Regions from separate parts of the Homo sapiens genome. Here regions 1, 2, 3, 4 and 5 are each reported to be linked to region 6. Evidence: microRNA targets listed by miRTarBase, many of them from high-throughput screens and not tested one by one. Region 6 holds a microRNA gene; each other region holds the end of a gene's coding sequence. Distances are from middle to middle.

Region 1 (5,002 bases), not on the chromosome of region 6:
ACTCACATTGTTTGTCCCTTCAGGTAGTTGGGCAGGCTCTTGCCCCAGCCACTTGGCTCTCCCTTTGTACACCTCAAGCCAGCTGGAGCTGCCCTGAGCAGCCACCTGGGACCTTAGACACCTTGGCCCATCTGGCATTTGTTTGGCAGAATCTACCATGAGGCCTTCTGTTGGGTGGCCAGGTTGAAGGGTCTGGAAGAACTCCTAGCACCCCCAATCTGTCATCCCTGCCACAGGGACAGTAAGGACACTTGGTTCAAGTCACCTTGGAGATAGGGCCTCGCTCCCACATGCCCACAGGGAATGGGAACTGGCATTGCCTCCAGGAAGAAACCTCCAGGGCCACCAGGACCAGGGGACCTGCTTCCAAAGCCTGGCTGGGCTTCAACTTCTGAGACCCTGAACCAGCTATGTAACTTCCTGGAGCTTCCTCTGCTCAACCAGATGATAATTTGCTCCCTCAGAGACAGTCATGGGCCAGAAGAGAGAGATTGTGACCTCGAAGGGGCTTTGTTTCACATATAAAGTAGCATTAGCATTTTAGGATTCCAGCATTTTAAAAGCCAGAGAAATCGGTAATTTATTTTTCTCTGTGGCTATTTCTTTCTCTCTGCCAACTGCCGAGTGCCACCCCATCCCCGGGTAACCAGTATTACCGTGCTGCTCTCTAAACAAAACTCCTTTCAAAAGACAATGTTCAATTAGCTGGGCCACAGTTTCTGAACACTAAATTCAAAGAGTGGCAGCCTTTTCCCAATATATAATGGGAACGTCAAAGTCAGTTTTTTAGGACTACTTCTAATAACTGTGGACTGGGTAATTTGGACCAAATTCCCAGTTCAGGACAACTTAAAAAGCTGCTCAAAATTTGCGTGTGTGTGTGGGGCGGGGGAGGACATTTTGAACAGCTTTTAAAGTTATATATATATATATTTAATAAATATATGTACGTATATATATATATTTAATAAATATATGTACGTATATATATATATTTAAGTCTAATTGAGAGTATTGGGCAGGAAACAAAGCAGTGAAGAATTACAAGGCCAAGATCTGGGAAAAGAAGGCAACTCAGAGACATATGCATGGCATCTGGGACTACGTTTTCTGTAGGGGGTCTGCTGATTCTAGAAGACACTGCAAAGCCCACCAACAGGAAGGCTACCTGGCAAATGTTTCATGCTTTGGGTTGGAGCCCCAGTGGGCTTCACCCTATGAATATGAATGAAACAGAAGTAGGTCAGCCCTTAAAGTGACTCAAATCCTCTCATCCCCTACAAGTAGATGAAAGAGATCTGGCTCACTGCATCCCCAGCCACCTGCCAGATGTAAACATAATCCTCATAGAGGAAGATAACTCCATCCTAGACCTGAAATTACTTGTACTCAATTAAAACATTGCCAAGTATGGGAGGAGACAGGACAAAACTAACAAAAAACAAGAGAAACAACAGGCACTAGAAACAGACTCATGGAGGCTCCATATAAGGGACTAACTGAACTTTAAAATAACTATGCTTAATATGTTCAAATATATAAAAGATAAAATAGGTAATTTTGAAAGAGAACTGAAAATATTTTAAAAATGGTTTCTATTCCATTTGTAATGCCATCAATTTTATTTTTGAAATGCAAGGGTGCTACTTCCCCCAGGTAGGTCAACAGATGAGTAACAAGCAAAAAAAAAACCTCTAGGAAAAGCAAAAAGAGGCAGTCATGCTACATTCAAGCATGCTCATCTGACAGTGATAATAATACATTGTGTATGCACCATTCTAATTCCCAGTAGAAAACTTGTTGCTGGTTTATAAGATGCAGTTAAACATAGACACTTCCAGCCTGGGCAACATGGCAAAACCCCGTCTCTACAAAAAATACAAAAATTAGCCAGGCATAGTGGCACACACCTGTAGTCCCAGCTACTCGGGAGGCTGAGGCATGAGAATCGCTTGAGCCCAGGAGGTGGAGGTTGCAGTGAGCCAAGACTGCACCACTACACTCCAGCCTGGGTGACAGAGCGAGACCCTGTCTCAAAACAAACAAACAAACAAAAACAAACAACACAGACACTCCCTGAAACCCAGCAGACCACAATCTTAAAGGAATTTCTGCCTTTGAATAGAGGCCTGCCTCCCTCTTCCCTCGTACATGCCCGGATGCTAGCTCTACCCCCGGCCCAGAGCAGTCATGGCAAACAACAACAACGACAATAATAATAGGCAGCTTCCATCCACTGAGCATTTGTTTTGTGCCAGGCCACTGCTAAGGGCTTTCCACAAATTATCACATTTGATTTTCACAACCCTTTGAGGAGGCTGTGACTATTCTCCCCATCTCATAAATGGAGAAGCTGAGCGAACAAGCATCACAGCCAGGCTGTGAGTCCAGGTCTGCCTGCTCCTGACAGCAGGCTCCCAGGCTGGGACCCACTCCCTACCTGCAGATTGCTGGAATAATCCCTGGATGCCTGCAGCCAGAGGTGACCTTAGAACTCTCCTCTCCATAAACACTCATTAAACACCAACTATGTACAGGGTCCCAGCCTAGGAAACCTGGTTTTAAGGACCCAGAACCAAGTCTCAGGGAAGTGAGAACACTTTAATGGATCTGAGGTCTGTCCATCTCTTCTCTCTCCTCTTCCTCATTTCTGGAACGCAGTGTCCAGCACTCAGGGCTGACACAGGGATGGGCTGGGGATGACCCTAGGCCACATGCGCAGGATAAAAGGGGCCGTGCAAAATCCTGTTCTGGCCACCAGATCACTCCTAAGAAAGTTGGGTGGGGGCTGTGGAAGATGCTTCCTTCTGAAGAGGTAAGGGCAAGCCCCCACTGTGGCCCAGGTCCCAGGTCCCTTCCTTGGGAGCCAGCACTCAGAGAGAAGCTAAGTGCTGGTACCCCCATTTCTAACTTGGGTGCAGGCAGGGAGGCTCGGCCTTCAGACAGGCCTCCCTCACCCCACTGGACACCAATAAATCCTGGATGAGATCTGCAGAGGGCCCAAGGCCCTGGGGCAGTGGAGGGCTCAGAGGCCATGAGGCAGGGCCTGCAGCCAGCCCAGACCTAGGCCATGGTGGCCCCTGCCTGATTAGTGGCGTTACCTGAGTGGTTTGGTTGGGCAGGGTGGTCTCTGGGGCCAGCAAGGTAGCAGTGGAGATATGGTGAAGAGGGGACTAAGGGAGGAAGCAAAGGGCCAGGAAGGGCATAAGAGGGAAGTGGGGGCCAGGGGGGAGGCCAGATGAGGACGGTGTGGGGGGCGAGGGGCTCAGAGAGGGGCAGGGGGAGGCTTGGCAGGGGGAGGCTTGGCAGGGGGAAGACACACGGGAAGGGGAGTGGGGTTGGACGAGGCCTCTGTCCCACCCCAGGGTCCAGGCTCCAGCAGGTGGAGAACAGGCTCTTCCTGTGAGGATGCCACCAGCATGGGGGTAAGGGGTGACACCTGGAGGGACTTGCTGGCTCTGCAGCTGCACAGAAGTCCCATGTGATTCTGAGCGTGAATGATGGGGGTCGTGAGCAGAAAGGGGTGGAAAGGAGCAGGCAAGGTGGGGCCAGGTAAGCCGGAACTGGGGACAGTCCAGGCCTGGATGCCAGCCTGGGCTCTGGGGCAAGAGCTACCGAAGTCCTGTGGCCCAGGCTAAATCAAAGGGGAGGACAGGCAGCCTCAGGGTCACCTCACCCTGTCAGGGATTAAGAAGGAAACGGGTGAAGGGGAGGGAGGGGAGAACAGGGCTGTCAGCCCCACTGCTGGATGGGCCACACCCAATACCCAGACTCCACCATGTCCCCAAGCCTTCCTGCCCTCCTAGGCCCTGGAAACCCCAGACCCCAGCCCCTCCCCACCCCACTCCCTTAATCCCTGGCAGGGAGCAATTAAGCGAGTTGGGGAAAACTCACCCACAAGGCCCTACAGCTTCAGGGAGGTAACCCGGGGGATGTGGAAGAGCTGAGTCTCCTCAGAGCTGGTGGAGCTGCAGTGTCAAAGACAGAGAGTGAGCATACCCTTCCCCCCAGACCCTCAGCCCTGACACAGGGACAAACCCAGAGCCCTGAGGGTTTCTCCTCGGAAGCCCTGTGGGGGATGGGAAGGGTCCCACGAAGCTGCGCCCAAATGGATGCAGCAAGAAGGGTAAGGGGCAGACATACGGGAGAACTTCCTGGCTTTGGAGCTCCTCAGAGTGTGGCTCTTCAGGGCTCGCTCATGAGCCTCCTCTGCCTGGGAGGTCTCAGGAGGGGCTGTGACAGGGGACCCTGGCGGCTGAAAGGACACCTCCCTGGCCCCTGATGCTGCCTGCAGCCCTGGCAGCCCCTCACCTGAGGCGTTTCCGGATAGGACGGAAGTATTTGGAGGTCTTGACGGCAAAGATGATGCTGGGGATCAGGAAGAAGGTGCACCATGCCAGGCAGAACCAGAAGGCATTCTGCAACAAGGCGTGAGGTCGGCTCACCAACCCACGTGGCACCCAGCCTCACCCAGCTGCCTTGTCATCAGAGCCGGGGCAGAGGCCATGCCTGGCTTCACACCCTGCTCACCCGGCCCTCCCTGGAGAGCAGGAAGGCTCCGGGACTTGGTGAACAAGCCCCGATGAGCTGGGGCACTCACCCAGGGGTCAGCCATCATGTCACACAGGATCACACGGCTGTTGTCCAGGGCTCCGGAGAGGGGCTGGCAGGTGGCAATGCGCTGAGTCACCTGTGGCGCCAACATGAGGCAGGTGATGCAGAGACACCTGGACCCACAGGCGCACACCCATATTCAATTCAGGGAGAGTGGTTGACAGGGACACAGAAAGGCCTGGGGACACCATTGGGGCCACCGCACACTTGTATACACATGCAGAGAGGCAGGTACAGACAGATGCGGACATACTCTACAGACTCCTCGCTGGGCCCCTCCCCTTTCCATCTGTTCACCAGCCTGGATTAAGGCCTACTATGACCCAGCACTGTGTGTCAAGCCACAGTGCTTGAAAGCACACATGTGTGTGCATGCATACACACACAC
Region 2 (5,002 bases), not on the chromosome of region 6:
ATACTGGAGAGAAACCTTATAAATGTGGTCACTGTGGGAAATTGTTTACTTCCAAGTCACAACTCCATGTTCATAAACGAATTCACACAGGAGAAAAGCCCTATGTATGCAATAAATGTGGGAAGGCATTCACCAACCGGTCAAATCTCATTACACATCAGAAAACTCATACAGGAGAGAAATCTTATATATGTTCCAAATGTGGAAAGGCCTTCACCCAGAGGTCAGACTTGATTACACATCAGAGAATCCATACTGGGGAGAAGCCTTATGAATGCAATACTTGTGGAAAAGCCTTTACTCAGAAGTCAAATCTTAATATACATCAGAAAATTCACACTGGAGAGAGACAGTATGAATGCCACGAATGTGGGAAAGCCTTCAACCAGAAATCAATACTCATTGTTCATCAGAAAATTCATACAGGAGAGAAACCCTATGTATGCACTGAGTGTGGAAGAGCTTTCATCCGCAAGTCAAACTTTATTACTCATCAAAGAATTCATACTGGAGAGAAGCCTTATGAATGCAGTGACTGTGGGAAGTCCTTTACCTCCAAGTCTCAGCTCCTGGTGCATCAGCCAGTTCACACAGGAGAGAAACCCTATGTGTGTGCCGAGTGTGGGAAAGCCTTTAGTGGCAGGTCAAATCTCAGTAAGCACCAGAAAACTCATACCGGAGAAAAGCCCTACATTTGTTCTGAATGTGGGAAGACCTTTCGACAGAAGTCAGAGTTGATTACACATCACAGAATTCATACTGGAGAGAAACCTTATGAGTGCAGTGACTGTGGGAAGTCTTTCACTAAAAAATCACAGCTCCAAGTGCATCAGCGAATTCACACTGGAGAGAAGCCTTACGTGTGTGCTGAGTGTGGGAAGGCCTTTAGCAACAGGTCCAATTTGAATAAACATCAGACAACACACACTGGAGACAAACCCTACAAGTGTGGCATCTGTGGGAAAGGCTTCGTTCAGAAATCAGTGTTCAGTGTTCATCAGAGCAGCCACGCTTGAGAGAAACAGTGTGAGAAAACCCCCCTGAGGGTTGGGTCTGATTGTACACTGTTGCACGCATGCAGCAGAAAAATATGTATATTATTGTAAATAGAAATGACCACATCAGAATGTCACACATGGCTGTTCTGGAGAGGGCCTCTGAGAAGGCACTGAATGAGGCGAGGGACCCTTCCTACATTGTCACCATCCCCAGTAAACCTTGGGTCATTATTCATACTGACAAGGAACCGAGTCAATTTGGTGAATAGGAAAAGCCTTCTCATGAAAACTACAATAGAATACTGTTACCAAATTCTTCATAAGAAAGATCATATTATGGGAATGATAATCCTGTTTACTGTGGATTAGGTATAGTGCCAACAGTTTGAATGGTAAGACAACATAATATATATGATAGTGATGAATCCTTCTGTGAGTTGTTTGTTCCAGAACACACTGTCTAGTAGAATTGTGGGTATTTTCTTCTTTTGAATCGAACACAGTTGTGCATATCCAATTCCCCATTGAGTATTTCTATCAAGCAAGAGATACTGCAATAAGACAAACTCCCTGTGTATTCAGACACAGACCTCAGAGCGTATGTTGAGTCCCCATTGTCATAGAAAAAGACTTACAGTCCCCTTCATTATCTGCCAGGACTCTCTCTGAGCCCCACAGGTTCTCAGCACATTGTGTTTGACACCCAGCACAGTGTTTTTTCTTTTTCTTTCTTTCTTTCTCTTTCTTTCTTTCTTTCTTTCTTTCTTTCTTTCTTTCTTTCTTTCTTTCTTTCTTTCTTTCCTTCTTTCTTTCTTTTTCTTTCTTTCTCTTTCTTTCTTTCTTTCTTTCTTTCTTTCTTTCTTTCTTTCTTTCTTTCTTTCTTTCTTTTTTTGAGACAGAGTCTTGCTCTGTCGGGCAAGCTAGAGTGCAGTGGCGCTATCTTGGCTCACTGCAACCTCCGTCTCCCGGGCTCAAGCAATTCTCCTGCCTCAGCCTCCTGAGTAGCTGGGATTGCGTGTGCCACCACGCCCAGCTAATTTTTGTATGTTTAGTAGAAACGGGGGTTTCACCATGCTGGCCAGGCTGGTCTCGAACTCCTGACCTCATGATCCGCCCGCCTCGGCCTCCCAAAGTCCTGGGATTACGGACGTGAGCCACTGCGCCCGGCCCAGCACAGTGTTTTGTACACTCCCACCACCCTCAAGAAAGCCTTTGAGGTTAGGATTTTCAGGTCATCTGGGAGAACTTAAATTCTTCCTTCTGCTATTACAATTCTTCTCACTCAGTTGCCTGCCTCTTTTTTTTTTTTAATTTACTTGTGACTGAGTTGAAGCCCAGCATTTTACTTTCCTTAATGATCTGACTTTCATAAGTTGATAAGTCATGAAATCATTATCTTACATTATATGAGATATGAGATAAATCATAAATCATATGAAATTGATAACTCATATGAAAACCAACCCCACCATATGTTCACTGTCTACTTGTGTCCATCTTCGTCCCACGCACCCCACAAGGACCTTCCCCGCCATGTGCCTCAAACATCAGTTCCTGACTCAGGGCCTTTGTATTTGCAGTGCCCGTTGCAAAGAGCACAATTCTTTATTTTATCTGTGGCTTGTCCGTCATGTCTTTTTTTCCATGACACCTCCACACAGGCCTTCCCTGCCTGCCTGGTTTAAAATTCCAGCCCCTTACCCTTCCTCCTTTATTCTTCTCCCTAGCAATTTCCACCATGCTGCCTGGTGTATTTTCCTCATTTCTCTGTGGCTTCTACACTAGAAAATATTTCCCTTTTGTTCACCACTATGAGTCTAGACCCATGACTGCCATACAGCAGGCATTCCATAAATGCACCTGTGGAGAGTTGACCCATGCTTGTTGCGTGACTTCTGTCTGATTTTTTTCTGTGTTGCAGCATAAGAAGCGCTAATAGGGAGAACCAACTTGGCTAAAACACACCAGGCTTTTTCACCTCTAGTCTGTACCTGGGCTGTATCCCTTCTCAACCCTAAAGCTAAAAAGTCATTGTGAACCTTTTGGTCTGATGCTAAAGAAGGGAAAACAGGTACAGGAAATCCCATGTGGATGCTTGCTTCCAGGATTTCCTGCCATGATTCCAGAATCCCACAGCTCCAACATGATTGCAAAAGACTCCCTGCTCATTTTTCCTCAGCATGCACAGCGCTGTCCTGTCTCAGTTGCAACTCGACAGAGCCGCATTTACTCCAGAACCCAATCCACACACCTGCTCATCCTGCCCCGAGAGGAGTGCCTGAAGCCAATAGCAGGGAACTAGAGCAGACTTGGGTGGATCTTCATTGGATATTAGGTATCTTGCCCTAGATAGGCAGCAGTGGCCTTACAGATGCTGACAGATGATCTGATTAGATGCACAGTTGCTGGGTGGCGTCTGGGGCCAGTCTATTGGCAGTTCTGGGAGTGGGAACTATTTGGGCTCTGCAAAGATGGTTTCACCTTTAAGAAGGGCAGTATGGGGAGGTGAAGATGGGGCCCAAAGGATAGAACATAGTCAAAGAAGCAGGGCCACAATGCCCCTTTAATTCCCAAGCCCTAGTTGGGCAGTGCTTGGTGACACATCCCATTACCTCACCTTAGATCAATGTCTACTGAGCCATCATTAGCTCTGCTTCCTCACTTCTTCACAGTATCTGATGGCCCATCACATGCTGCTCAACATCTTAGACCAATGTCTGCTCACCCATTACCTCCCTTCACCTCATCCAGCACTGTATCTGAAGCTTCACTATTCTTCCTTCAGTTTTGGATATTTTGTGATACAACATTATCCCCAACTTAGGACAATGTCAGCTGACTCTCAGGAGGGTGCCTGGAGATCACCTCTTCCTTCCTAACATACCCTAGAACAAGGTCTGGTCCCCTTCATTATTCCCATTTTACCTTACTCCTAAGTGTATCACTCCTCATGAATTCCAGGAAATATGGAGGAAAACACATTTCACTGTACATGACTTTCAATAATTTCTCCTTTATATTTATTGTAACGTGATATTTTAGTGCTGACATATATATGTATATGTATGCCCATTTATATAAAAGACTAGTTTTTAGAGAAATTTTAGGTTCACAGCAAAATGGGGCAGAAGGTACAGAGATTTCCCATATATCCCCTACCCTCACATATACACAGCCTCCCCCATCATCAACATCCCCCTTCAGAGTGGTACATTTGTTACAATTGATGAAACTACATTGACACTATCGGCCAAAGTCCATGGTTTAATTAGGGTTCAGTCTTGATGTGCATTCTGTGGGTTGAGACAAATGAATAATGACATGTATGCATTATTACAGAAGGATAAAGAGCCGTTTCACTGTCCCAATAATCCTCTGTGTTTCGCCTACTCCTCTAAACTCCTGGCTATTTTCTTTTGTCTCCATAATTTTGCCTCTGAACCATAAAGTATGCAGCCTTTTCAGATTGATTTGTTTCACTTAGTAATGTGGATTTAAGTTTCTTCCATGTCTTTTCGTAGCTTGCTAGCTCTTTTTTTTTTTTTTTTCTCATTGAATAATATGCTATTGTCTGGAAGTACCATGACTTATTTATCCATTCACCTACTGAAGGACACCTTAATTGCTTCCAAGTTTTGTTGATTATGAATAAAGATGCTATAAACACCTGTGTGCAGGTTTTTGTGTGAACATGACTGTAATATTTTAAGGTCGTATTTATTGAGGTATAATTTACATACAGTAATATTCACCCTTTTTAGTGTGGAATTCTCAAAGTTTTGACAATTACATCATGCAGTCAATACCACAGTCAAGACAGAGAACAGTTCCCTCACTTCCCTACATTTCCTCCTATTACTTTTTAGTCCATCCCTTTGCCCACCCCCAGGCCTTGATGATCACAAGCCCATTTTCTGTCTGTATAATTTTGCCTTTTCCACATGTTGTATAAATGGAGACATCCTGTGTGTGTCTCTGTCTGTTTATATATGTGTATGTATCTC
Region 3 (5,002 bases), not on the chromosome of region 6:
TAGTCAGGATGGTCTGGATCTCCTGATCTCGTGATCCACATCCACCCGCCTCGGCCTCCCAAAGTGCTGGGATTACAGGCGTGAGCCACCGCACCCGGCCAGCACCCAGACTGTTAGGAGAGACACAGACACCGAGGCAGAGAACCACGGGGCCGTGTGAAGTGAGCCCTGTTGGGGTGTGAGGCATTCTGTGGATCCCAGGGGGAGGAGGTCCTGCCTCTGGGGGTGTCATGGAGGCATCAGCCTCTCCCAGCTTACCTTTCCACCTCCCTGCCTCCCCAGGTGCATCACCAGGTCCTTTTACCGGAATGTGGTGGGTGTCCTGCTGGTCTTTGATGTGACAAACAGGAAGTCCTTTGAACACATCCAAGACTGGCACCAGGAGGTCATGGCCACTCAGGGCCCGGACAAGGTCATCTTCCTGCTGGTTGGCCACAAGAGTGACCTGCAGAGCACCCGCTGTGTCTCAGCCCAGGAGGCCGAGGAGCTAGCTGCCTCCCTGGGCATGGCCTTCGTGGAGACCTCGGTTAAAAACAACTGCAATGTGGACCTGGCCTTTGACACCCTCGCTGATGCTATCCAGCAGGCCCTGCAGCAGGGGGACATCAAGCTAGAAGAGGGCTGGGGGGGTGTCCGGCTCATCCACAAGACCCAAATCCCCAGGTCCCCCAGCAGGAAGCAGCACTCAGGCCCATGCCAGTGTTGACTCTAGGAGAGAAAGGGTTAAAGCAGTCCCAGCCTTAGCCCACCTGGTGGGATGGGGAGTGTTAATATCTCTCTGGAGGACAAATGACAGAAGGGTTCATATAAACAGTATCCTGACACAGTCATGCTTCCTGGATTTTGGAGTCGAGGCTTTCTACAGAAAAGAAAGTTCTGATGGCCAGGCATGGTGGCTCACGCCTGTAATCCTAGCATTTTTGGAGGCCAAGGACAGTGGATCACCTGAGGTCAGGGGTTCGAGACCAGCCTGGCCAACATGGTGAAACCCTGTCTCTACTAAAAATACAAAAATTAGCCAGGCGTGGTGGTGCATGCCTGTAATCCCAGTTACTCCAGAGGCTAAGGCAGGAGAATTGCTTGAACCTGGGAGGCAGAGATTGCAGTGAGCCAAGACTGCGCCACTGCACTCCAGCCTGGGCAACAGAGTGAGACTCTGTTTCAAAAAAAAAAAAGAAAAGAAAAGAAAGGCCTGAGAGACCAGATGTGCAACTTCCTGTCCTTGAGCCTCAGTGTCCCTATCTATCGATGGGGCTCATAAAAGATCCCACCTTGAAGGGAGGTGGTGACCACAAATGAGACAGTGGACAGGATGTGCTCACCCAGAGCCTGCCGCGCTGTGAATTGAATGACAAAAGCTCTCATTCCCACTCCCTTTTTCTTGGCTGCGATGTGGCCACTCTGGCAGCATTCCTGGGCTCAGACACTGAGAAGCCAGCGTCAGGAAGCTGATGCATGGGCAAAGGCAGGTGCGGGGAATTCCAGGGGGAGCTTGGCTTGGAGGCTTCTTATGTCCTCAGGCTAAAATGATTCTGGGCATGGGATTAATATGTGACGTCAAACCCAGGGTTGCTGGCCAATGCCCCCCCGACCAGGCCCAGGGGCTGAAAAATGGATGTTGGAGGCTGGGATGAACATGAATGTGTAGCAACTATGTTGGGCACACAGTGGCCACTGTGATGAGCCACCAAGATCCCCCTTTCTGGCTGGGGAACCCATCAACCCTCTCCCCAGCTGCTGGAGTGCCACTGGATGATGGACTTCAGCTTGCCCCACTCTCTGGGAAAGGCCCTCCCTTCAGGGCAGCTTGTATCCAAAGTTCATCTCCTGGGGGGCCTTAAAGGACTCCCTCTTGCCCCAGCTCTGGACAACTCTGAAAGTCAAAACCAACTTTATCAGTCTCTGTGGGCTTCATTGAGGACACTGTTGTGACATCATAGCCAAGTTATCCCCTTGCCCAATCCTGCTTCCTTTTCTTCCCCAAACAGGTATCCATTTCAAGAATATCCCCTAATAAACATCTGCACACTCATCTCCATCTCAGAATCTGCCTCCTGGTAACCTAACCTATGATGGGAACTGCTAGGCAGGGAATGTCCTGGGAGCAATTAGGGAAGGCTTCATGGAAGAGACACTGTTTATGTTAGGCCGAATCTCAGCAGGTGTAGGGCTTAGTGGGTATCATTGTGCTGTAGCAAAAAGCACAGCCACTTTGCTGGGTGCAGTGGCTCACGCCTGTAATCCCAGCACTTTCGGAGGCCTAGGCAGGCAGTTCACTTGAGGTTGGGAGTTCGAGACCAGTATGGCCAACACGGCGAAACCCTGTCTATACTAAAAATACAAAAATTAGCTGGGTGTGGTGGCTCATGCCTGTAATCCCAGCACTTAGGAGGCTGAAGCATGAGAATTGCTTGAGCCCAGGAGGCAGAGGTTGCAGCGAGCCACGATCCCGCCACTGCACTCCAGCCCTCTAACTTGGGTGGCAGAGCAACACTCCGTCTCATAAAAAAAGAAAAAAGCATAGTCACTTAACTCTCTTTTGTGACCTTGAGCTAGTTACTTGGCCTCCTTGAGCCTTGGTTTCCTCCTCAGTCAGTAACATGAGACTGATAATCCCTCCCTCCTAGGGTTCTTAGAAGGTTTTCAGAATGAGTTTCTTAGCTTCCTCCCCATGGAGAGGGGGCTGAGGGGTCTTCCTGTGCACTTGGTCCTGCCTCTTTTTTTTTTTAAACCCATAAAAATTCACCTGTTTTATTTTGTGGGGGGTGGGGAATATCCATTACCTCAGACATTTATATTTTATTTGTATTACAAACAATCCAGTTATACGTTTTTATTTCTAAATGTACAATAAATTACTGTTGACTGTAGTCACCCTGTTGTGCTATCAAATGTTAAATCTTATTCATTCTATTTAACTGCATTTTTGGCTGGATGTGGTGGCTCACGCCTGTAATCCCAGCACTCTGAGTGCCGAGGTGGGCGGATCACCTGAAGTCAGGAGTTCGAGACCAGCCTGGCCAACATTGGTGAAACCCTGTCTCTACTAAAAACACAAAAATTAGCTGGACATGGTGGCATGTACCTGTAATCCCAGCTACCGCGGAGTCTGAGGCAGGAGAATCACTGGAACCTGGGAGGCAGAGGCTGCAGCGAGCTGACACCGTGCCACCGCACTCCAGCCTGGGCGATAGAGCGAGACTCCATCTCAAAAAACAAATAAATAAAAATAAAATAAAAATAAAAACTATGTTTTTGTACTCATTAGCCATACCCACTTCCCCCCACCACTACCCTTCCCAGCCTCTGGTCACCATCATTCTACTCTATCTCCATGAGTTCAATTGTTTTAATTGTTAGCTCCCATAAGTAAGTGAGAATGTAAAAAGTTTGTCTTTCTGTGCCTGGCTTTTTTCACTTATAATTCCAGTTCCATCCATGTTGTTGCACATGACCTGCCTCTTCTTTTTAAACATCCTTATTCATCCTTGTGACGTGGTGAGGTTGGCACAATCATCCCCATTTCACAGATAAGAAAGCTGGGGCCAGGAGAGGAAAATTACTTGCTTTAGGGTATCTTTTCATTCCTTCATCGTTTTTTTTTTTTTTTCCTTAGATACAGGGTCTCGCTCTGTTGCCCAGGCTGGAGTGCAGTGATGCAATCACACCTCACTGCAATGTCGACCTCCTGGGCTCAAGTGATCCTCCCACCTCAGCTTCCCAAGTAGCTGGGACTACAGGTGCACTTCACAAAGCTAACTTTTAAATTATTTGCAGAGACAGGGTCTCACTATGTTGCCCAGGCTGGTCTCACACTCCTGGCCTCAATCAATCCTCCTGCCTCAGCCTCCCAAAGTGCTGGGATTACAGGTGTGAGCCACTGTACCTGGTCTCCTTCATCAATTTTCTTTCTTTTTTTTTGAGACAGAGTCTTGCTCTGTCGCCCAGGCTGGAGTGCAGTGGGGCGATTTCGTCTCACTGCAATCTCTGCCTCCTGGGTTCAAACGATTCTCCTGCCTCAGCCTCCCAAGAAGCTGGGACTACAGGTGTGTGTCACCACACCAGGCTAACTTTTGTATTTTCAGTGTTTCACCATGTTGGCCAGGCTGGTCTCGAACTCCCGAACTGAGGTACTCTGCCTGCCTCGGCCTCCCAAAGTGCTGGGATTACAGGCATGAGCCACCGTGCCTGGTCCGTCAGAGGCTTATTATTATTACTTTGAGGTGGAGTCTTGCTCTGTCACCCAGGCTGGAGTGCAGTGGCGCAATCTCGGCTCACTGCAACCTCTGCCTCCTGGGTTCAAGCGATTCTCCTGCCTCAACCTCCTGAGTAGCTGGGACTACAGGCGCACGCCACCACGCCCAGATAATTTTTTGTATTTTTAGTAGAGATGGGGTTTCACCATGTTAGCCAGGATGGTCTCGATCTTCTGACCTCGTGATCCACCCGCCTCAGCCTCCCAAGAAGATGGGACTACAGGTGTGTGCCACCACACCAGGCTAACTTTTGTATTTTCAGTAGAGACAGGGTTTCACCATGTTGGCCAGGCTGGTCTCGAACTCCCAACCTCAGGTGATCCACCCGCCTTGGCCTCCCAAAGTGCTGGGATTACAGGCGTGAACCACTGCGCCCAGATGCTTCATCAATTTTTTTTTTTTTTGAGACAGAGTTTCACTCTTGTTGCCCAGGCTGGAGTGCAATGGCACGATCTCTGCTCACTGCAACCTCCGCCTCCCAGGTTCAAGCGATCCTCCTGCCTCAGCCTCCCTAGTTGCTGGGATTATAGGCATGCGCCACCACACCTGGCTAATTTTATATTTTTAGTAGAGATGGGGTTTCTGCATGTTGGTCAGCCCGGACTTGAACTCCTGACTTCATGTTATCCACCTGCCTTGGCCTCCCTAAGTGCTGGAATTACAGGCATGAGCCACTCCCAAAGTGCCTGGTCCGTCAGAGGCTTATTATTATTATTATTTTGAGGCGGAGTCTTGCTCTGTCACCC
Region 4 (4,902 bases), 22 Mb from region 6:
CATTTCCTTTCACAGGTACCTAGGAGTCTCACCCTCTAAATGGTATTTAGATGTCTGCCAAGCATTTGAGGGAAATACGTATGCATGTTTTGAGGGCTCTGTTTTTCTAGAATTTTGTACCACCTTGGCAGCCCTGCTCTCTGACTCCTCAGTCCAATAAGACTACTACTTTTTGCTTGAGTTCTTACCTCTGTGAACCCACAAACTGGAAAGTGCTTTTAGAAGAAGCTAGTTGAATGTGGATCTCAACCAGTATTTCTGCTCTTTCAAGGATCATATCGCTTCCAGTTTCTACTTATTATTGATTACTCATCTACACCTTCAAATATACTTTTTAAACGTTTTTAAAATGTTTTCAAATATATTATTTTTGAAAATTCATAAATCCAGAGTTTATGTTGGTTCAATACAAGCTACTTTGCCATTACTGGAATTAGAACTGAGTTATTTTAAAAACATTTTTTAAAAATGGGAAATACCTGAGCATGACTAAAAGCTATCAAATTCCAGTAATTCGGTAATGGAAAGCAATTTTTATCTACAAAAATTTTATATTTCAGTTTAAGAAAGTACTTTTTATTACTGTTGTGATGATAGTCTATAATTCTTTCCATTGAGGCTGTATATTAAAAATATATGGCACTTTTTTTTCCTTGTGTAGGACATAGCAAATGAAGAACACAAAAAAATTGAAGTGTTAAAATCAGAAAACAAGAAGCTAGAAAAACAAAAAGGAGAATTAATGATAGGGTTCAAGAAACAGTTAAAATTAATTGATGTTTTAAAAAGGCAAAAGGTGAGTCTATCATTAAAGTTAAATCATCATATTATTTGTAACTTTCTTACTAAAAAATTTAGCATTTTTCACTTTAGGTATGTTTTTGACATCTTTACGCACTGAACTTCATATAAAATGCATCATACATATGAAATCATATGAAATCTAACATTTATAGTGAGATATATGTGTCATCTAAGCAAGTGGATATTTTCACATAAGTAAGTTAGTGTAGAAAATGGGACTGGAAAATACAGTATAGGTACTTCTCAACTACAGAAAGTACCAAATTAAAGAATGACTATTAGGGGACTGTTTGCCTCTTCAAACCTTAGAGCGAACATCACTTCCAAACCACTATTGCTGCTTTCTCTAAAAATTCATAGTTCTGACACTTTCCTTCTTTGCAAAGGTCAGGTATTTAAAATATTATAGAATTATTATTATCTTAAAAGTAAGTTGGTTCAGTACTACTGTTGGACAATACCATTTCAAATATCATGCTTATTGGAATTAAGAGTATACATTCCTACAACAGAACTTATATTCTGACAATATATTATCCACACATTTTTACAAACTTCCTGTTGTTTGGTGGCCTACTCTTAATACTAAATCAGACAATATTGATTTTTTTTTTAACAGATGCATATTGAAGCTGCCAAGATGCTATCTTTCACTGAGGAGGAATTTATGAAAGCACTTGAATGGGGAAATTCATAAGTGATCTACTTCAGTTAGTCTCTATGACAGTATGTGATGGATACCCATTTTACTTATTGTAGTGGTTTGAATTATTTTTATTCTTCATAAGTAATATATTTGATTATGAAAGCAAAATAATTTCAAAGAATTCCCTTTTTAGATTTAGGAGATTAGCTATTAGCTCTTTTTGAGTTGTTTTTTAAGTTCTTAGCGTGACAATTAAGCACATCAGATAATAAAATTCTTGACTCTTTTCATTTATAATTCTCCTCCCTTACAGTAGACCAAAAAAGATGCTTTAAAAGAAAATTCCAAATATTTATTTCCCTGGCTAAATCAAGTAAGTAAAGTTCGTAAACACAGACAGAAGGCAGTTCACTTTGGGGTAGAGTTCTGTATTAGTCAAGGTAAATATACTGTCTTGAGGATGGGGATGCAAACAGTGCTCTGTAGTGTTGTAGAAATCGGATTTTGAAATTATCAGTACAAAAATAACAGCTTGATTAAAATTAATTTGTATCTGATAATTGTTTACAAGTTATGAAATTCAGTGATGATTTACAAAATCCAAACAGACAATGGATACCTAATGCCACTGAACTGTAAAACAAAAGTTATGCTGACATCTAGTGGTAACATGCAAAAAATCTATGCTTTACCCAATTTTGATGATATCATTTCTCTTCACAAATTTCACTCCTTTGTTGATATACTTTCCTGAACTCTTCACCAAGCAGATCAATATCATCCTCTTTTTTAAATACTCCCTACGAGAAAAATACTTTGTGGGTTACTTTTGAATACCAGAATATTTCACTAAATGCTTTTAAGACTGACAGACATAAGATTAGTAAAGTTATCTCCAAGGTAATGAAATCTATTCAACAGATTAATGAAACTTTAAAAAAATCAATACTTTTCAAAAAATAAGACTTTACATATATATTGAATATTCCTAGACTGACCCAATTTTCTGATTTATCAGCTCTAGTGTAGGAGCTTTTCATAGGAATCTGAGCTCTTCTACAAGTTCTACTGCTTGGATTACCTAGATAGGAAGGCACTTCATCTATACTGTACCCTACCCTTTTCTTTAAATAGCTCTATAATATGATATAATGGTGAGCTTCAGTAGATTCATGCATGGGATTAGTTCTTCATGCCTCAGTTCTATGGCTAATCAGCAAACAGTCAATCTTGCAGAAAAGAATCCAGGTTTGGAGTTAAGCCATTTAAGCAAACCCTTTGGAATTCTTCACTGTTCTATTTTTCTTTTCCCCTACAGTATACTGCAAAAGGCTCTTTAAAACAAAATTAAATATTTACTTAAATTGCAATCTAAAGAATAAAGAATTTTAGGGATAACTGAAGTCATTTGGCACCATTAGGACCTAAAGGATAAAGGTCATTTTTGGATATCAAGTTTATTAATCCCTCCTGCTGCCTCCACAATTATTTCCTCTACAAAAATATCAAATCCCAAAGAAAGACATTCCTACAATTTATAATTTAGTTTATGAAATGTATTAATTACATATGGATTTTATCATTAATACATCATTTTGTATTCCTTAATCCTTTCTAACCAATTAGACTATCAAGTCCTGTGGCCAGGCAGTAATTACCTATATATCTTTTTCCTTCCTTAGCACCAGAGTGAATATAATAAAATAAATATGCACTTGATTCTACTGAATAAAATATGAAATGGCATTTCTATAGCTGAAAGATGGCGATCTTATTTATATGAGTCTAGATGTTTATGTGGCCTATGAAACTGTTATTACTTTTTTAAGACAAGACGGGGTCTCACTCTGTTGCCCAGGCTGGAGTGCAGTGGCAAGATCATGGGTCACTGCAGCTTCAACTTTCCAGGCTCAAGCAATCTTCCAACCTCAGCCTCCAGAGTATCTGGGACTACAGGCGTGCATCACCACATCCAGTTAACTTTTTATTTTTTGTAGCAATGGCATCTCCCCATGTTTCCCAGGCTGGTCTTGAACTCCTGGGCTCAGGTGATCCTCCTGCCTCAGCCTCCCAAAGTGCTGGGATTATAGGCATGAGTTGCCATGCCCAGCCAGTTACTATTTTATTTGAAGTCACAGTGTGTCTCAGGTATACATTAAAATTCACTATCTTCTGGAATTTTAAAAATCAAGTTTAACTAGTTATAACTTCCTACTGTAGAGCAGATCTGTCTCAAGCTCAGTTCAACCATGTGCCTATTACTGGTGTTACCAGTGACAATGTTTTCATACACATTCTCATCTTTGGCATGTAAGTACTACAGTTCTAGGGTAGTCTCAAGCTCAGTTCAACCATGTGCCTATTACTGGTGTTACCAGTGACAATGTTTTCATACACATTCTCATCTTTGGCATGTAAGTACTACAGTTGTTCTAGGGTAGCTTTAGATTTCCTACACTAAAAGGGGAGAAAAGAAACTCTAAAATACAAACTCAGGCCAGGTGTGGTGGCCCACCCAGCACTTGGGGAGGCTGAGGCAGATGGATCACCTGAGGCCAAGAGTTCAAGACCAGCCTGGCCAACATAGCAAAATCCTGTCCTTACCAAAAATACAAAAATTAGCTGGGTGTGGTGGCAAACGCCTGTAATCCCAGCTACTCAGGAGGCTGAAGCAGGAGAATCACCGGGAGGCAGAGGTTGCAGTAAGCTGACATCTTGCCACTGCACTCCAGCCTGGGCGATAAATAAGGTACAAATTCAGTAAATCAAGCTCATACATCTAATAATGTGCTAAGACCAATCATTTTAGATATACTGAAATGGGCCCAGAGAGGTTCAGTGCCTGGACAGGAGGATCCCATTGCTGCTTCATAACCGAGCAAGAAGTGAGCAAAACCAAGGCACTCTAAAATCCAAATACCATGTTTTTTTCACTATTACAGGTCATGAAGATTACAACTTGAGATAAATCTCACTTACTTTAGGGAGATAGCCTAGTAAGTTTGTAGCATGCTCTTTAAGAAGTTTTAGCCTTTCTTCTTCAATAATTGCATTAATAAATCCTTGCCGCCTTTGCTGCAACTGCCACTCTTCTAGTTCACGTTGCTGGAAATGCAGATCAAATTTTGTTATCACAAAGTACATTAATCTTATACGAAGTTTTCAAATAAAACTACTCATGCAATGAATTAGATAAAATTGATGAACTATTTATGACACTAAGTTCAAAAGATTCTAGATAATATATATTTTTAAAATATATATTTTATGTCTGTACACATATCTATGTATTTTTTACTGTCATTATTCCTTTAAAATTACAAGGAGGCAAACAAATATTTTCAGGAAAGTGTCTTCATTACCAAGGGAAAAAATATTCAAAGGAGTGACTGCCTAATACAGTAAATATTTACTGAATGCTTACCATATACCAGATGCTGAAGAGTTTACAG
Region 5 (4,839 bases), not on the chromosome of region 6:
GGTTGCTAGGGGTTGAGGGGAGGGAAGAATGAACAGGTGCAGCAGAGGACTGTTCGGGCAGGGAAACTCTTCTGTATGATACTATAATGGTAGATGCATGTCACTGAAAATACATCCAAACCTATAGAATGTACCACCCCAAGAGTGAACCCTAATGTAAACTATGGACTCTGGTGATAGTGACGTGTCAATGAAGGTCCATCAGTTGTAACAAATGACCACTCTGGTGCCCAGTGTTGGTGATAAGGGAGGCTGTGCATGTGTGGGGACAGGGAGTAAATGAGAACTCTCTGTACCCTCTGCTCAGTTTTACTGTGAACCTAAAATTGCACTAAACAAATAAAGTATATTTAAGAAAACGGTCACGGCCACTTGAATTGCAGTAATAAACATACAGAGACTTGGTTAACGGGTCACAGAGTATTGAATCTGACAAACACGGTTAACTGCATTACAATAAAATATAGGAATAATTGTTTAAAAGAAAAGATTGAGGCCAGGCATGGTGGCTCACACCTGTAATCTCAGCACTTTGGGAGGCCAATATGGGTGGATCACCTGAGGTAAGGAGTTCGAGACCAGCCTGGCCAACACGGTGAAACCCTGTCTCTACTAAAGATACAAAAATTAGCCAGGCATGGTGGCACATGCTTGTAATCCCAGCTACTTGGGAGGCTGAGGCGGTAGAATTGCTTGAACCCAGGAGGCAGAGGTTGCAGTGAGCCAAGATTGCACCACTGCACTCCAGCCTGAGCAACAGAGTGAGACTCCATCTCAAAAAAAAAAAAAAAAGAAAAAGAAAAGAAAACATTGAGCCCTGGGGGGATGCTGGACAGTGCGCAGCACCACAGGGCTAGAAAAAAACACCCTGCCCTAAAGGAGACAAGATGATCCAATCCCATCCCAGGGCTCACATACATGCAGTGTATGTGACCCAATCAGTGACCCACATACATGCAGGCCAGTTCCTGCCTTAAAACCTGTGACTTCATGCCAGTCAGTCGTGGTGGCTCACGCCTATAATCCCGGTACTTTGAGAGGCCACGGCGGGCGGATCACAAGGTCAGGAGATGTAGACCAACCTGGCTAACACGGTGAAACCCCGTCTCTACTAAAAATAGAAAAACTTAACCGGACGTGGTGGCAGGCACCTGTAGTCCCAGCTACTTGGGAGGCTGAGACAGAATGGCGTGAATCTGGGAGGCGGAGCTTGCAATGAGCCGAGATTGCGCCACTGCACTCCAGCCTGGGCAACAAAGAGAAACTCCGCCTAAAACAAAACAAAACAAAACCTGTGACTTCTTCCTCCTTCCAGGTAAGCTCTCTTCTCTGGGCTCTACTGCCCTCCTGTCATCATCTGTTGTCCCAGGAGTGTTTGTGGAGGTACACTGGTAACACTACTAGCTGCTCAAAGTCTCTAGTTCTCTCAAGAAGCTGAGGGATATGTGGTTTGGCCAGGGTTCCTGGGGCAGGGAGAAGAAAGGGAAGAGGCTTGGAGAGGGAGGCAAGTTTGCTTCCATAGCCATCTCACTTTTAGTTCTAAATCCTGGCTCCTTCACTTGGCCTTCGTCACTGAAGTGCCCCTTCTTCCTTTAGGTGTTTAAAGCACTTGTGAGCAGCAATTCAGGGATGCTCAAACCATTGCTGCTTTGCAGTCATCTGCAGTCACCTGGCCTTAGCTCTGTCTCTCCTGGAACTTTGGGGTCATTCTGTATCCTGCATTGCACCCAGCAGAGCATCAGGCCCAAGGGAGGCTCGATAAATATATGGTGAGCATAAATTGTGGTGGAAACCCAGCCCAAGAGGCTGGGGCAGAAGTGTGAAGTGTGGGAAGGGTGCTGGGCAAGCTCATCTGGTTAAGAAAACCCTGGTCCAGCTGGACAGGAACTGGAGCTCAGCAGCCCCACGGTGTGGTCTCAGTCTCTACTATTCTCTTGTCCATCAGTTTGCCCCACCTCATGAGAACCAGGCCACCAGCCACGCCTAACCTCAACTTCCCACAGCTCCCAGGGGAGCAGAGTCTCAACCTCTTCCTTAAGTTCCGTTTGAAAAAAAGGCAGAAAGAATTCAGATCAGTAAGCTTGAGCCTTTCCATAGAGGACAAAATGGCCTGTTCCCTGAGAACACAGCCAATCCACCAGGACCGCCAGCCTGGGGTGAGGGGTGGGCCAGGAGAACAGAATGTATAGGGAAGGGGTGTCCCTACTAGAGGCCTGTGGGACATTTCCACTGGTGGGACTTGGCCACACACACAGAGTAACATCCCTTTAGGTCTTCATGGTCAAGGTGGTTTGTGGCACCATAAAATGGAAAAGGTGGCCTCATCCCAATTATGTTGACAGTGGTGGTAGAAGGCCTGGCATGGCTGGTGGCCTTGGCCATGGACTTGGAAGGGCTAATCATCAGTGCTGCCTCCAAAGTGGGTGTAGTTGGGTCCATCCTGGATGCTAAAGGGCAACTGATGGATGGCAAGCATGAGAGCTGAGCACCTAGGAGGCTCGTTCTGCCAAGAAAGCCTCACCTTCCTTGGTAACAGGAAGATCATGAAAATCAATGTAAACTGAAGTGGTTTTTCCCCCACCCCCCGCCCCCAACTGAGTAAGTTTAAACCTTCACTAGAAGCTGCTGATTGAAGACCTCCTAACCACCGACTTTTGGTACCCCACCCATATCCCTTTGGGACTCAACATGGTGCAGGCAGGCCCAGCTCCACATTGCCTGAAGGCTTTTTCTCAGGGGCAGAAAGAGCCAGGGAATGTATGCACCCTGGGATCAACCTGTAACCACTGACTAAAGGCAGTAGGCAAACACCCACAGCCGCCACCTCTCAGGTGAGGTAATTCAGAGGCAACTGCTGTGTGCAGCCCCCTAGAGGCACTCAGCTCCCTACCACAGTCCTAATAGGCTTGACAAGCATTCACGAGGACTGTGTCCCCTTCCTGCTTCCCGGGATCACCGCCCACCCCACATAAACCACTCGCACCAATTCTCAGCCCAAGCACTGCTTCTCAGACGGCTCTGCCACAGCCACCTGCCACCTGTGACATATACTTTGGTGGAGAAATGTGTGCCACCATCCAAAGGAGGCCTCTAAGGAGACAGAGGTGAGGTGGGGATGAGAGATGGAGGCATCCCAAGAAGCCTCCTAGGGGGATCCTTGACCACGAAAGCTCAGACACGCAGCTTTGGGGCCATCCAGAGAGGCACTCACTCATAGGAGCAGGATGCACGCATCAAACTCACAGAAAGAGGGTAAAATCACACAGCCAGTGCTTTTAATTCAAAACGAAAAATATGTCATCCAGGCTAGACTGCTCACATTCATCTGACAGCAACTTCTCTCCCTGCAGATGAGGGAAGGCTGTGATGACTTTATCTCGAGCCTGCCTGGTGGGAACGGGCTTGGCACAAAAGGAGCTGCAGAATCCTGCTGCTGATTGGCAGATGCATTTCTGAACTCAGCGGGGGCTGGACACTGAGCAGGACCTTGTTGATAATACTGCCTAAGTGGGCACAAAGCCAGGGGCTGTGGCCTGCCAGCATGCAGGCACAGCTCCTCCACCCTCAGGGGAGTCTGAGACCCCTTTTGTGTTTCGATGACTGTGGGATTTTTTTTTTTTTTTTGAGATGGAGTCTCACTCTGTTGCCCAGGCTGGAGTGAAGTGGCGCACTCTCGGCTCACTGCAAACTCTGCCTCCCAGGTTCAAGTGATTCCCATGACTCAGCCCCCTGAGCAGCTAGGATTACAGGTGGGCGCCATACACCCAGCTAATTTTTGTATTTTTAGTAGAGATGGGGTTTCACTATGTTGGCCAGGCTGGTCTTGAACTCCCGACCTGAGGTGGTCCAACCACCTCAGCCCCGCAAAGTGCTGGGATTACAGGCGTGAGCCACCGCGCCTGGCCTTGACTGTGGGTTTGGAAGAAGAGCGGGGTGAGCTCCAGGCAGCTCCTCACCCTAGCACTATCGGCTGGCAGGGATGGAGGAAGGTGGGTTCAAGGACAAGCGTGGCTGCCGCACGGCAGCGGTCTAAGTAACACAGCAGCTCTAGGCTCAGGAAGTTCTGTGGTTCCACTAACCTGAGGACAGGCAGGACCTCCTCCACCCTCTGCCCAGCCCCCTTTCTGCAGGCTTGTGTCACCCACTTGTCCTGGTATAGCAGCACATCAGAGCTGCTGGGTAGGAGGGAGATGCCAAGCTTCATCTGGCTGTGTGTCTACCCTCTGCCTGCCCTCAGAAGCACCATCCCAACGAGGAATCAGCGGGGCCAAGCGGCACTGAATTCCTTCTCCAGGCCTTGGACAAACTGGTCGTTGAGGAAAAGCAGCTGACCATGTGGCAGGAAGCGGGTGAGGATGCCCTCAATGCGGTCAGCCCGCAGCAGAAGGCTGGTGCTGGGCGCCAGCAGCCGGAGGTGGTCAAGGAGGAGGCGTGTCAGCAGCCGGAGCGTGCCCTCAGCCAGTAGCAGGTTCTCATGGGCATCCAGCACCAGGGCAAAGCCTAACGAGAGCACGCCCAGCCACACCACCGTCCGTGGCTCCTGGAAAGGGTTCTCTGCTGCCAGGCGGAAAGCCCCACGTGGGGCCTCGTGCAGCGGCACTTGCTCATCTGAGGATTGCGGCTGCAGGTCCATGGGGGGCCGGCCAGATGCCTGCTGCTGCAGCCGACACATTGACTCTACCTGCCTGGGGAGAGTGGGCAGGTCAGGCTGGTGGGCTCACACACCAACTCTGTCATCCTCATGATCAACCCTGGTGCTGGGAGCTACCATCATCCCCATATCTCAAGTGAGAAAACTGAGGCCTAGAGAGACTAAGTGATCTGCCCAGGGCCACAGAA
Region 6 (5,002 bases):
GCCAGGTGTCACACAGCTTTCCTTCACTCTAATTCATTCTTGACTAGAGCCTGTATGCCTGTTTCAGAGACATTTAAACTCTTAAAGGATGTCTTATGATCTTTACTAAATACATTAAGAAGAATGCCAACCAGCGCCCTTTCGTGTACTGGGACAGGTAGTCATGTGATTAAAACAGGGAACACGAACTCTGACTTTAAAATGTATTGTAGATACAAATGCTCTAAGCTAGGAAAGGTTTTCCACATCCACAGCCAACGATGGCAGCCTTTCATTCCTCGGAAATAAGCCATTTTTAGGTCACTGAAAAAGAGTGCAACTGCTGCAGCTCACGATGCAATATCTTCATGAGCCCAGAGCACATACAAATCCAAAGGGAACTGCCACAGTACAGTGCTCATTCTTGGCACCGGAACAGATGAAACACACTGTATCCTGCACATACCTGCCAGAGCAGGCCACTTTCCTCTTCTGCGAGATTTAGAAAGCTCCCCCAAAAGGTTATCACTCCCATCACCAATACACAGAAAATGGAGGAAAGGCTGTTTCCAGTTCTCGGCCTTTAAACAGCTCTAAGTGTCAGTACTCATAGTGGCATATTACAAAGTAATAAACAGTGCACACTTGAGGGCAAACCGCATATTGAGCTATGGAAGAGCTCACTGTGATTAAGATGAGATCAAACATCATAGCAGAACATTAGCAAATTTTATCTGAATTCTGTAATGAACATCCATGCTGCAATAACATTAAAAAAGCACGGGAGCCTATTCCAAACCAGCGAGAACAGTTTTGTGCAAAGAGTGGGTCTTTGTGTGTTTGAACTCCCACCACGTAAGGGCAAACTCGATATGCATGCTAATGACCTACAATTATGAAATGAAAAAAGAAAAATGCTAAAGGATGCCAGAGTGAACATCAGTGAGAGGCACAGAGACCCACTCTCTTTTAACTTTTTACAAATAAACTTAAACTATAAATTAGAAACACAAATAATCATGAGTAGCTCTAACATTCAAATGAAGTAAATGAATTGTGTAGGAGATTAACCCCATAACTTTGTTTCGTTTTTAAAAATTTCTTGAGCAGCTCTTTGATGATGGTGGTGTTTATCTCCTTCTTCTCGGCAGCCAAGCCCAGCAAAAGCATGGCACACAGCAGTTGCTGCCCAAGCCTGGGTGCTCCTGGTGGTCCTGCATCTCACCAAGGAGCTGCAGGACTGGCTGTGCAGTAGGGTTGTCCTGGGAAGAACCCTCCCTGGCTTCTCCTTGTGCAGGCTCCACGCTGTTGGTGAGGCTCGCCTCACAAAGATCTTTGGAGAGAGAGAGGCGGGGATCTGAGTGGAGTGCTAGCCGCCCCCCGCTCCTGCCTGCTCACCCCGCCTGGGGGCTCTACTCACCACCATGCTTGTCGGCAGCCCCGAGCTCCTGGGGGGCTGGGGCTCCTGGACTGGGTTCAGCAGCAGGGTTCCGGGCAGCGGCCAGGAATTTGCCGTGCCCCTCGCTGTAGCTGCCACAAGCCGCAACACCATCTCCTGCAGCTCCAGCAGCTTCACCTGAAGGGACGGGTGCTCAGCTGTCAGGCCGCTGCTGGCGCCCACCCTCATGCCCACCCCACCCACACCCCCACCCCACCCCCACCCCCACAGGGATGTTGCACACCCTACCTTCCTCTCCTCCTTGTCCTGGGCCAGCCTGATGATGGCCTCCTCCCGGTGACGCATCTTTGGCACTGTCCCCTGGCTCTGTTAGAAGGCGATGTACTTTCCTGCGGGAGGACAGGGCTCAGACGCTGGGGCCCCTCCCATAGCCCTGCAGCTCCCCCTGCCGTGCCCTGGCCTCCCACTCACTGATGGCATCTCTCTCTCCGGTACTGGATGAATCCAAGTTCCAGTTTCTCCACATGCTCCCTCAGGTCCGCCTTCTCCTCCAGGAGGTCCATAAGGCCGCTCTGGAGCCAAAATAATGGGGTCACATCTCAGCAGCGACCTGCCCCAGCCCTGCCCTTCTTGGCCCATGCTAGGACTCACTCCCCTCCAGCTTCTCCATGACTTCCTGCAGGGCCCGGAGGGTCTCCCCACTCACAGACTCGCCCCCAGTCCCTGAGGCTGGGACTGCTGCCTCTGGCTCCTTCTCGGCCGAGGTGAGCGTCTCCATCACCTGGCCCAGCTTCTCCTGCAGCTCCTTTACTTGCTGCTCCAACTGCAGTGCGCTCTTGTTCTCGTGCTTCTGGACAGAGAGAAGCAATCAGCAGCCACCCACTGCAGCTGGAGACCCCAGAACTTGGTGTCTGCCTCCCATGGCACCGGGAAGGGTGGAGCCAAGTTAGAAAAATACTCTCCTCTCTCCCACAGCCACCAGAGCAAAGCTCTGGCTCACAGGTGCCTTTGGAAGTAATATTTCATGTGAGGGCTACACTGCCCCATTTTACAGGTGGGGAAACAAAGGCCTGGAGGGCTAGGGAGGAGGGCAGGCTCCCCAGGTGGGGCAACCCACCAGCTCCTCCAAGTCGCTCTGTGGCTCGGCCAGCTGCTGAAGCCTCTTCTCCCGTTCCCGAAGCCTCTCCTGCTGCTCCTGAAGCCTCTCCTCCTGCTCGCGAAGCCTCTCCTTTTGCCCACGGTTCAGGAGACTGATGCACTGATTGTTTTCCACCTGAGCCTGGAGCTCTCCTGCCACTCTCTCCAGCTCCTTCCTCAGGTCTTGCAGCTCCACCTCAGAGGACACTGCTGGGGCATCCGGGGGCAGTGGCTCAGCTGAGAAAGGAAGCAGATCATAAGGGCCTCTGGATTCTCAAAACAAAAATCAAAACAGAAAAAACAACAAAACACCCTCCTGTTGGCGCACAGCTCCTCTCAGGCTCCCAAACTTGGCTTCACTGCTAACGATCCCTCGCACCCGGATGGTAGCCAGTCTTCCAAACCACTTTCAGATAGAGAGCACTGCGGGTGGCTGACAACGGGCCCTCTTTGCTCATGGGGACACTGAGGCTCAGGGAGATGACAAGACTTGTCTCCTGGCACAGACCTCTTTCCCTCTGCCTCAAAGCCCTGCCATCCACCCACCTCCCTGGGGCACTCTAAGCCACCCCCACAGCCCTCTGATGCCAGTCCTGCTCCCAGGTCATGCCAGCCCCATCTTACCCATCTGGTTTTTGAGTCTGGACAAGCTCCTCTCCAGCTCCTCTACCCGATGCGTATCATGCTTCTTCTCCTCCTTCAATGTGCAAACCTGCCCAAAGCACAGGGGGAAAGGGCCCTGGAGAGAGGGGCTGGTGGCTGGACAGGCTCCCATCTCCCTCTCTGCCCCCACCTCCACAAAGCCCAGACCCAGGACCACCTCTGGCTGCACTATTCCCATTTTAAAGAGGCCCAGAAAGATCCAGTGACCTATCTTAAGTTGTTGGTGGGGGGGGGGTGGGGCGGGAGGCTGAAGGGTCAGATCTCACCTCCTGCGACATTTTCCTCATCCTCTGCTGCCACTGGGCCCTCTCTCCTTTTATTTGTTCAGCATATTGATCTCTCTCCAGCTGGACTTCTTTAAGCGACTCCTTCAACTGCAAGAATGGCCACACAAGTTAGGAAGGGCCGTCACTGGTCCTCACCTGCTCCTGGCCACCTGGGGTCATCTTCCTTCCACATCCCTCCCTCTGCAAAACCTCACCTGTGTCACGTGTCCTTTCAGCAGTATCTGCTCCCGTATGGACTGCTCTAACTGCCGCTTGAGAAGTGCTTTACTGCGGCTCGAGAACTGGATGGTGAAGAGTGAGAAGTTTCGATCTGGGGAGCCTGGGCCATTCCACACAGTGCCCCTTAAAAGGGCTAGGGCTAGGCTCAATATACAACTCGGTCAGTAAAGATCAAGGCATTTCCAAGCCCGTGGTCTGGTTTTGAAAAAAACTCAGTGAAGTTGGAAGGGACAAGGAGAGAGATCAGATAATATTGCTATTGTTATTACTCCCACTGTTTGAACCTTTATGGAGTGCTTCAGCAGGTACCTTGCTAGCAATCCCATTTAATCCTCGCAACCACCAGAGGAGACAGTTACTATGATGCCCTCTCTTGGGTAGATGAAAAAACATGGAGTGTTTGAGGTTAAGTGCTTGCCTAAGATCACTTAGGCAGAGCTAGGATTTGAACACCCAGGTCTATCAGATTCTCTAAGCCCATTTTTCTGCTGGGGGTGGGGGCACGGTTAGGAAGGGGAAAATTAATCTTTTGTTCACTTTTTGAAAAGATGATACATTCACATAGTCCAAAACTCGGAAGGTATCAAAGGGAAGTATCTCCCAGCCACCCTGCTGCTCTCTCCTGAGTTGTTTACGAACACTTGCAGACATGTTTTATGTATATTATCATACTATGTACACACACACACACACACACACACGTTTCCTCTCTCTACAGAAATGGGAACATACTAAAGGTACCCTTCTGTACCTTCACAGTACAAGTACCCAATACCCCACACCCCACCTAGGACTTGGCCAAGACCACAGCCAGGTAAGGGCAGGGCAGGCACTTGGCCTCCAAGCTCTGCATCCAGTGCTCGCTCCCCACCGCGCCCCCCGACTCACCCACAGCAGCTGACTCAGCCTCAGGCTGCCTCTAACAACCATACACAAAAGCAGTGAGAAATGGCCATGCTGCCTTCTGGGCAGGACACTCCATCCTGCAGAAGGGACCTTTAGGCTCACTCCTCCATCTGTGAAGCCGGGCTCCCAGGGGACAGGGCAGGTGACTGGACTCACCCCATCCGGCTTCTTCTTCTGTGTGGCGGCGACAGCACAGAGAGACCACTCTAACTCTCCTATACGCTGCGATGAACGTTGCAGGCGGCCGGCCAGATCCTTGGACTCTTCTGTAATGACAGAGTTGACATGGGGCTCAAAGGACTCCGCCTTACAGACCTGTCAAAGTGCCAGGTTGAAGGATGACAGGGTGCCCAGATTCCCACCTTCAAAGTATCTGAGAGAATGTTTCATGTGATACAGGTCCGTATTTAGT

Evidence for each region. The annotated mature microRNA hsa-miR-1233-3p reads UGAGCCCUGUCCUCCCGCAG and lies in region 6 at 1,768-1,787, opposite strand. An mRNA with a match to its seed (bases 2 to 7 or 8) in the 3' UTR can be bound and repressed. Matches are read on the target gene's strand: a 7mer-m8 pairs with bases 2 to 8, a 7mer-A1 pairs with bases 2 to 7 and ends in A, and an 8mer does both.
Region 1: miRTarBase lists PROM2 as a target of hsa-miR-1233-3p. Seed matches in the 3' UTR shown: 7mer-A1 at 1,954-1,960.
Region 2: the mRNA of ZNF585B is a reported target of hsa-miR-1233-3p. Seed matches in the 3' UTR shown: 7mer-A1 at 1,966-1,972.
Region 3: the mRNA of RAB42 is a reported target of hsa-miR-1233-3p. Seed matches in the 3' UTR shown: 7mer-A1 at 1,252-1,258 and 7mer-A1 at 1,416-1,422.
Region 4: miRTarBase lists TEX9 as a target of hsa-miR-1233-3p. The part of its 3' UTR that is shown has no 7-base or 8-base seed match.
Region 5: the mRNA of AP5S1 is a reported target of hsa-miR-1233-3p. Seed matches in the 3' UTR shown: 8mer at 812-819.

The regions. Positions count from the first base shown.
Region 1 is chr2:95,287,899-95,292,900 of GRCh38, reverse strand. It overlaps PROM2 (prominin 2), which reads right to left. Exons shown (of 24, transcript NM_001165978.3): 21 at 4,601-4,690; 22 at 4,312-4,418; 23 at 3,895-3,968; 24 at 1,599-3,677. The coding sequence ends at 3,905. Among named protein-coding and RNA genes, the nearest start is that of KCNIP3, 6.9 kb to the left of the region's middle.
Region 2 is chr19:37,181,241-37,186,242 of GRCh38, reverse strand. ZNF585B (zinc finger protein 585B) reads left to right here. Exons shown (of 5, transcript NM_152279.4): 5 at 1-4,664. The coding sequence ends at 1,016. Among named protein-coding and RNA genes, the nearest start is that of ZNF585A, 11 kb to the right of the region's middle.
Region 3 is chr1:28,593,412-28,598,413 of GRCh38, forward strand. It overlaps RAB42 (RAB42, member RAS oncogene family), which reads left to right. Exons shown (of 2, transcript NM_001193532.3): 2 at 283-2,038. The coding sequence ends at 706. Among named protein-coding and RNA genes, the nearest start is that of RAB42, 3.6 kb to the left of the region's middle. RefSeq lists an enhancer at 1-582.
Region 4 is chr15:56,426,944-56,431,845 of GRCh38, forward strand. TEX9 (testis expressed 9) reads left to right here. Exons shown (of 12, transcript NM_001395496.1): 11 at 662-796; 12 at 1,424-3,211. The coding sequence ends at 1,501. MNS1 (meiosis specific nuclear structural 1) reads right to left here. Exons shown (of 10, transcript NM_018365.4): 9 at 4,430-4,555; 10 at 1,781-2,250. The coding sequence ends at 2,158. Among named protein-coding and RNA genes, the nearest start is that of MNS1, 36 kb to the right of the region's middle.
Region 5 is chr20:3,823,717-3,828,555 of GRCh38, reverse strand. AP5S1 (adaptor related protein complex 5 subunit sigma 1) reads right to left here. Exons shown (of 3, transcript NM_018347.3): 3 at 1-4,685. The coding sequence ends at 4,259. Among named protein-coding and RNA genes, the nearest start is that of AP5S1, 5.6 kb to the right of the region's middle.
Region 6 is chr15:34,526,523-34,531,524 of GRCh38, forward strand. MIR1233-2 (microRNA 1233-2) reads right to left here and starts at 1,849; the gene lies at 1,768-1,849. It overlaps GOLGA8B (golgin A8 family member B), which reads right to left. Exons shown (of 24, transcript NM_001023567.5): 14 at 4,953-5,002; 15 at 4,747-4,856; 16 at 3,660-3,746; 17 at 3,445-3,552; 18 at 3,140-3,227; 19 at 2,496-2,752; 20 at 2,085-2,228; 21 at 1,850-1,950; 22 at 1,667-1,767; 23 at 1,400-1,555; 24 at 1-1,312. The coding sequence ends at 1,110.